2 separate regions of the Homo sapiens genome follow, and region 2 is linked to region 1. Evidence: fine-mapped expression QTL. A gene starts in region 1. The other region holds a variant in brackets. All regions are shown on one strand. Distances are from middle to middle.

Region 1 (2,907 bases):
GCAGACACACAAGCGTACACATACACCCAGACCCCCAAGAACATATGCAGACCCTGCGCGCGCACACACATTACACGCGCGCACATGCACATTCGCGGCCCCAGCGTCTGCTTCTTCCGCGGGACTCTGCCCCGGGGCGCCGGGGCAAGGGGCGGGGTAAAGACGGCCCTCCCCTGGGCCACCGGCCGGCCTCCCTCCCCCGGGAGACTCACCGGGCCCAACGGGATGAGCGGGCGGGCCCCGCCCAGGCGGAACCAGCAGCCGCACAGCGCCCCGACCATGGCTGCCTCCGCAGCTCCGCGGGCCGCTCCGGCTCTAGGCGGCCAGGAGCGCGGCCATCTCGGCGCGCCTGCGCACTCCGCAGCCGCGGGCCTGCAACCCAGTTACCGAGTCGTCTGCGTGGAGGGGGTGCTGGGGGCAGAGCCCCAGCGCTCTCTGGCCCGCTCCCCGCCCAGATTTTCGGAACTGTTTTTGGCTTGAGAGCCGGCGGAGAGCCATGTGGCTTCTTCTCAGTGGAACATCTCCACCCTGGCTCAGTTCTCTGGCCTGTATAATGGAGTTAAGGATAAAACCCACCGCACAGGGTTGTCCTAGGTTCTTAAGGACGGGTCAAGCCTCAGAACAGTGTCCGGAGCAGAGGCCTCGTTGTGTAAATGCCAGATATTGTTATGCAGCAGCTCCAGGTCTTGGCCGACCCACTTTCCTGACTCCTACCCACTCCTCCCCACCCCCTCCCCGACGCACACCCACGGTCAGAGCCTGGGCTGGCCCTGGGCTCGTTCACGTCTACTCATGGCGCCTGCCCTGGTTGGCGATGTGTTACCAACGTCTGGCCTGTCCCAGCCCAAGGCTCCGCGTGGCGACCAGGCCCAGCACTGGGAGGCTGTGCAGAGCGTGGCGTTTACTGCTTATTGCTACTCTGCAGAGGTTGGCAACATCTGACCCGCTCTACTGGCAGGAAACAGGCTCGGGGGCATTGGGAAAACGATCAAGGCCACTTGGCTGGACACTGGCGGAGCCTCGCACTCAAACCTGTCGGGCCTCAACTCCGTGCCAGGCCAACAAGTTGCCCTGGGCAGTTCAAGCTGGGGATAAGGGGGATGGGGAGCAGGAAGACAGCAGCAAGGATGCGATCCCGAAGGAACTTTCCTCCTCAGACTGCTCCATGTCCATGTGGGGCAGGTCGCTGAAGAGTTCGAAACCGTGCTCAGCACCGCGTTTGGGGCATGTGAGACCGAGAGGCTTTGGGAAACTGACGCCGCTGTGAGAACGAGTTTAGCGGAGTCTATGGACGCTGCGAGCTTGTGGCCACAAGAGGGCGCCCCGGAGCACGGCCCAGTCCCCGCCCCCGCTGGATGGGGCCCGGCCTCTTCCCAGCGTTCCTCCTCCGGCCCCAGGTCACCGCCAGCACGCGCCTGCTTCCCGTCTGCGCGAGTCCACGCAGCTCCCCAGGTACCCGCCCTGCACTCCTGACCCTTTCTTCTCTCCAGTCAAAATCCAACCCCACCTACCCCAAGTCTTCCTTTCTCGGATCCCTGGGTCCCCTCCTTGGGAGTTGCCACCATTCCCTCCCGGTGCTCCCTTCCAGAGCTAGCGAGCCAGAACCGTAGTCCGCGGAAGCAACCTGACCGCGAGGTCAACGCGTTGGGCCCCAGGTGGCAGCGCGTTGAGCACCCCGCATCCCCGGCGGGTCGCCTTTCCCACTGGGCGCTTCGGTTTCCGCCTCTAGAAAATGGGCTTTCCGGTGTGGAAGCGCGCCTGTGGTTCCAGCTACTGGGGGTGAGCCGGGAGGATCACTTGAGCCCAGGAAGGTCAAGGCTGCAGTGATCCATGATTGCGCCACTGCACTCCAGCCTGGACGACAGAGCGAGACATCTTCTCTTAAAAAAAAAAAAAAGAAAAAAAAAAAAACCGAAGAAAATGGGCTTTTAGTTCCGGCGCGGTGGCTCACGCCTGTAATCCCAGCACTTTGGGAGGCCAAGGTGGGTGGATCACTTGAGGTCAGGAGTTCCGGACCAGCTCGGCCAACATGATGAAACCCCGTTTCTACTAAAAATATAAAAATTAGGCCGTGCACGGTGGCTCACGCCTGTAATCCCAGCACTTTGGGAGGCTGAGGCGGGCGGATCACGAGGTCAGGAGATCGAGACCACCCTGGCTAACACGGCGAAACCCCGTCTGTACTAAAAAAAAAAAAACAAAAAATTAGCCGGGCGTGGTGGCGCGTGCCTGTAGTCCCAGCTACCCGGGAGGCTGAGGCAGGAGAATGGCGTGAACCCGGGAGGCGGAGCTTGCAGTGAGCGGAGATGTGCCATTGCACTCCAGCCTGGGCGACAGAGCGAGACTCCGTCTCAAAAAAAAAAAAAAAAAAATTAGCCAGGCATGGTGACGCACGCCTGTAAACCCAGCTACTCGGGAGGCTGAGGCAGGAGAATCGCTTGAACCCAGGAGGTGGAGGTTGCAGTGAGCCGAGATCATGCCACTGCACTCCATTCTGGGCAACAAGAGTGAAACTCTGTCCCAAAATAAATAAATAGAATAAAATAAAATAAAATGGGCTTTTTACCCCAATTTGGGCTCCCTCTGGCCTGCATTGACAACTCATGACCTGTAACTTACCGTTGATTGAGCACTGAGCCCTTACTACGTGCTAGGCATGGTACATGCATGGCCTTATTTAATCCTATCAACCACCTATGAGCTAGTACTATTGAATTATCCCCATTTATAGAAAAGGATAATAACGATGAGAATAAGAACAGTAATTGTAATGGAGCCCCACCACATATTGAGGTTTTACAGCAGGCACCCCCACTGATAATTTTTCTGTTTTTTGTTTTTTTGAGATGGAGTTTTTCTCTTGTTGCCCAGTCTGGAGTGCAATGGCGCGTTCTCGGCTCACTGCAA
Region 2 (2,907 bases), 880 kb after region 1:
CAAAAATTAGATGGGCATGGTGGTGGGCACCTGTAATCCCAGCTGCTCGGGAGGCTGAGGCAGGAGAACAGCTTGAAACCGGAAGGCGGATGTTACAGTGAGCTGAGATCGCATCACTGCACTCCAGTCTGGGCAAAAGAGCAAAACTCCGATCGGTGGCTGGCAAGATGGTCAAATAGGAACAGATCTGGTCTGCAGCTCCCAGCGAGATCAACGCAGAAGGCAGATGATTTCTGCATTTCCAATTGAGGTACCCAGCTCATCTCATTGGGGCTGGTTAGACAGTGGGTATAGCCCATGGAGGGTGAGCTGAAGCAGGGTTGGGCATTGGCTCACCAGGGAAGCACAAGGAGTCAGGGAACTCCCTCCCCTAGCCAAGGAAAGCCGTGAGGGACTGTGCCATGAGGGACAGTGCACTCTGGCCCAGATACTACGCTTTCCCCACGGTCTTCGCAACTCATAGACCAGGAGATTCCCTCAGGTGCCTACGCCACCAGGGCCCTGGATTTCAAGCACAAAACTAGGCGGCCGTTTGGGCAGACACCAAGCTAGCTGCAGGAGTTTTATTTTCATACCCCAGTGGCGCCTGGAGCGCCAGTGAGGTGAGACAGAACCGTTCACTCTCCTGGAAAGGGGACTGAAGCCAGGGAGCCAAGTGGTCTAGCTCAGCAGATCCCACCCCCATGGAGCCCTGGAAGCTAAGATTCACAGACTTGAAATTCTCGCTACCAGCAGAGCACTCTGAATTCAACCTGGGATGCTGGAGCTTGGTAAGGGGAGGGCCAGCCACCATTACTGAGGCTTGAGTAGACAGTTTTCCTGTCACAATGTAAACAAAGCCACCTGGAAGTTCGAACTGGGTGGAGCCCACTGCGCTCCTCAAAGCCTCTGTAGCCAGACTGCCTCTCTAGATTCCTCCACTCTGGGAAGGGCATCTATGAAAGAAACTCAGCAACCCCAGTCAGGGCCTTACAGAACAAACTCCCATCTCCCTGGGACAGAGCACCTGGGGGAAGGGGTGGCTGTGGGCACAGCTTCAGCAGACTTAAATGCTCCTGCCTGTGAATCTGAAGACAGCAACGGATCTCCCAACACAGCGCTTGAGCTCTGCTGAGGGACAGACTGTCTCCTCAAGTGGGTCCCTGATCCCTGTGCCTCCTGACTGGGAGACACCTCCCAGCAGGGGTCGACAGACACCTCATACAGGAGAGCTCTGGCTGGCATCTGGTGGGTGCCCCTCTGGGACGAAGCTTCCAGAGGAAGGAACATTGCTGTTCTGCAGCTTCCGCTGGTGATACCCAGGCAAACAGGGTCTAGAAAGGACCTCCTGCAAACTCCAGCAGACCTGGAAA[G/A]CTAACAAACAGAAAGAAATAGCATCAACGTCAACAAAAAGGATGTCCACACAGAAACCCTATCCGGAGGTCACCAACATCAAAGATCAAAGGTAGATAAATCCACGAAGATGAGGAAAACCCAGTGCAAAAAGGCTGAAAATTCCAAAAACCGGAACGCCTCTTCTCCAAAGGATCACAACTCCTCACCAGCAAGGCAACAAAACTGGATAGAGAATGAGTTTGGTGAATTGACAGAAGTAGGCTTCAGAAGGTGGGTAATAACAAACTCCTCCAAGCTAAAGGAGCATGTTCTAACCCAATGCAAGGAAGCTAAGAACCTTGAAAAAGATTAGAGGAATTGCTAACTACAATAACCAGTTTAGAGAAGAACATAAATGACCTGATGGGGCAGAAAAACACAGCACAGCTTCACTTCGTGAAGCATACACAAGTATCAATAGCCGAATTGATCAAGTGGAAGAAAGGATATCAGAGACTGAAGATCAACTTAATGAAATAAAGTGTGAAGAAAAGATTAGAGAAAAAAAAAAGAAAAGAAAAGGAATGAACAAAAGCCTCCAAGAAATATGGGACTATGTGAAAAAACCAAACCTATGTTTGATTGGTGTACCTGAAAGTGACGGGGAGAATGGAACCAAGTTGGAAAACACTCTTCAGGATATTATGCAGGAGAACTTCCCCAACCTAGTAAGAAAGGCCAACATTCAAATTCAGGAAATATAGAGAACACCACAAAGATACTCCTTGAGAAGAGCAACCCCAAGACACAAGAGCAACCCCAAGACACATAATCGTCAGATTCACCAAGGTTGAGATGAAGAAAAAAATGTTAAAGGCAACCAGAGGAAAAGGTCGGGTTACCCACAAAGGGAAGCCCATCAGACTAACAGTGGATCTCTCTGCAGAAGCTTTACAAGCCAGAGAGCGTGGGGGCCAATAGTCAACATTCTTTTTTTTTTTTTTTTGCCAGAGAGCATGGGGGCCAATAGTCAACATTCTTTTTTTTTTTTTTTTTTTTTTTTTGCTAACCTTATTTATGTCACTTAAGGATTGACATTTGAAAAGAATGAGAGAATGAAGGGTGTTAGTTTAATGAGCATGAAATGTTTTATATGCTGTTATAAGAATTGAGAGAGCTTTTGAGTATTACCTTTCTCCACTAAAAGTTGGGTAAGATGGGGTGAAAAGCTTTAAAACAAATAACAGGTAAAATTAGATAAAGTAATCTGTATAACCAGAAGATAAAGATCAAATGTAAATGTTAAAAGGGCTGCATTTTGCACTAGACAATGCAAATTCCACCATCAAGTTGGTATTAAGAAACTGGGAGATTCTGGATTCTGGTGTTGTCAGTTCCAGGCTTTTTTAATACCCCAAGGAGGGCTGTGGTTGAAGCTCTAGTCAACATTCTTAAAGAATTTTCAACCCAGAATTTTATATCCAGCCACACTAAGCTTCATAAGCAAAAGAGAAATAAAATCCTTTACAGACAAGCAATTGCTGAGAGATTTTGTCACCACCAAGCCTGCCTTACAAGGGCTCCTGAAGGAAG

What was found.
Region 2: its variant is fine-mapped to the expression of ABHD14B in whole blood (TOPMed, PIP 0.98).

The regions. Positions count from the first base shown.
Region 1 is chr3:51,972,510-51,975,416 of GRCh38, reverse strand. It overlaps ABHD14B (abhydrolase domain containing 14B), which reads left to right and starts at 1,368. Exons shown (of 4, transcript NM_001146314.2): 1 at 1,368-1,452. ABHD14A-ACY1 (ABHD14A-ACY1 readthrough) reads right to left here and starts at 353. Exons shown (of 17, transcript NM_001316331.2): 1 at 213-353. ABHD14A (abhydrolase domain containing 14A) reads right to left here and starts at 353. Exons shown (of 5, transcript NM_015407.5): 1 at 213-353. The coding sequence starts at 281. RefSeq lists silencers at 50-429, 1,260-1,429, 1,650-1,799 and enhancers at 1,030-1,209, 1,243-2,179.
Region 2 is chr3:51,095,323-51,098,229 of GRCh38, reverse strand. The region is part of intron 9 of DOCK3 (dedicator of cytokinesis 3); the gene reads right to left. Among named protein-coding and RNA genes, the nearest start is that of MANF, 290 kb to the left of the region's middle. The variant G/A (reference allele first, on the strand shown) is at 1,353.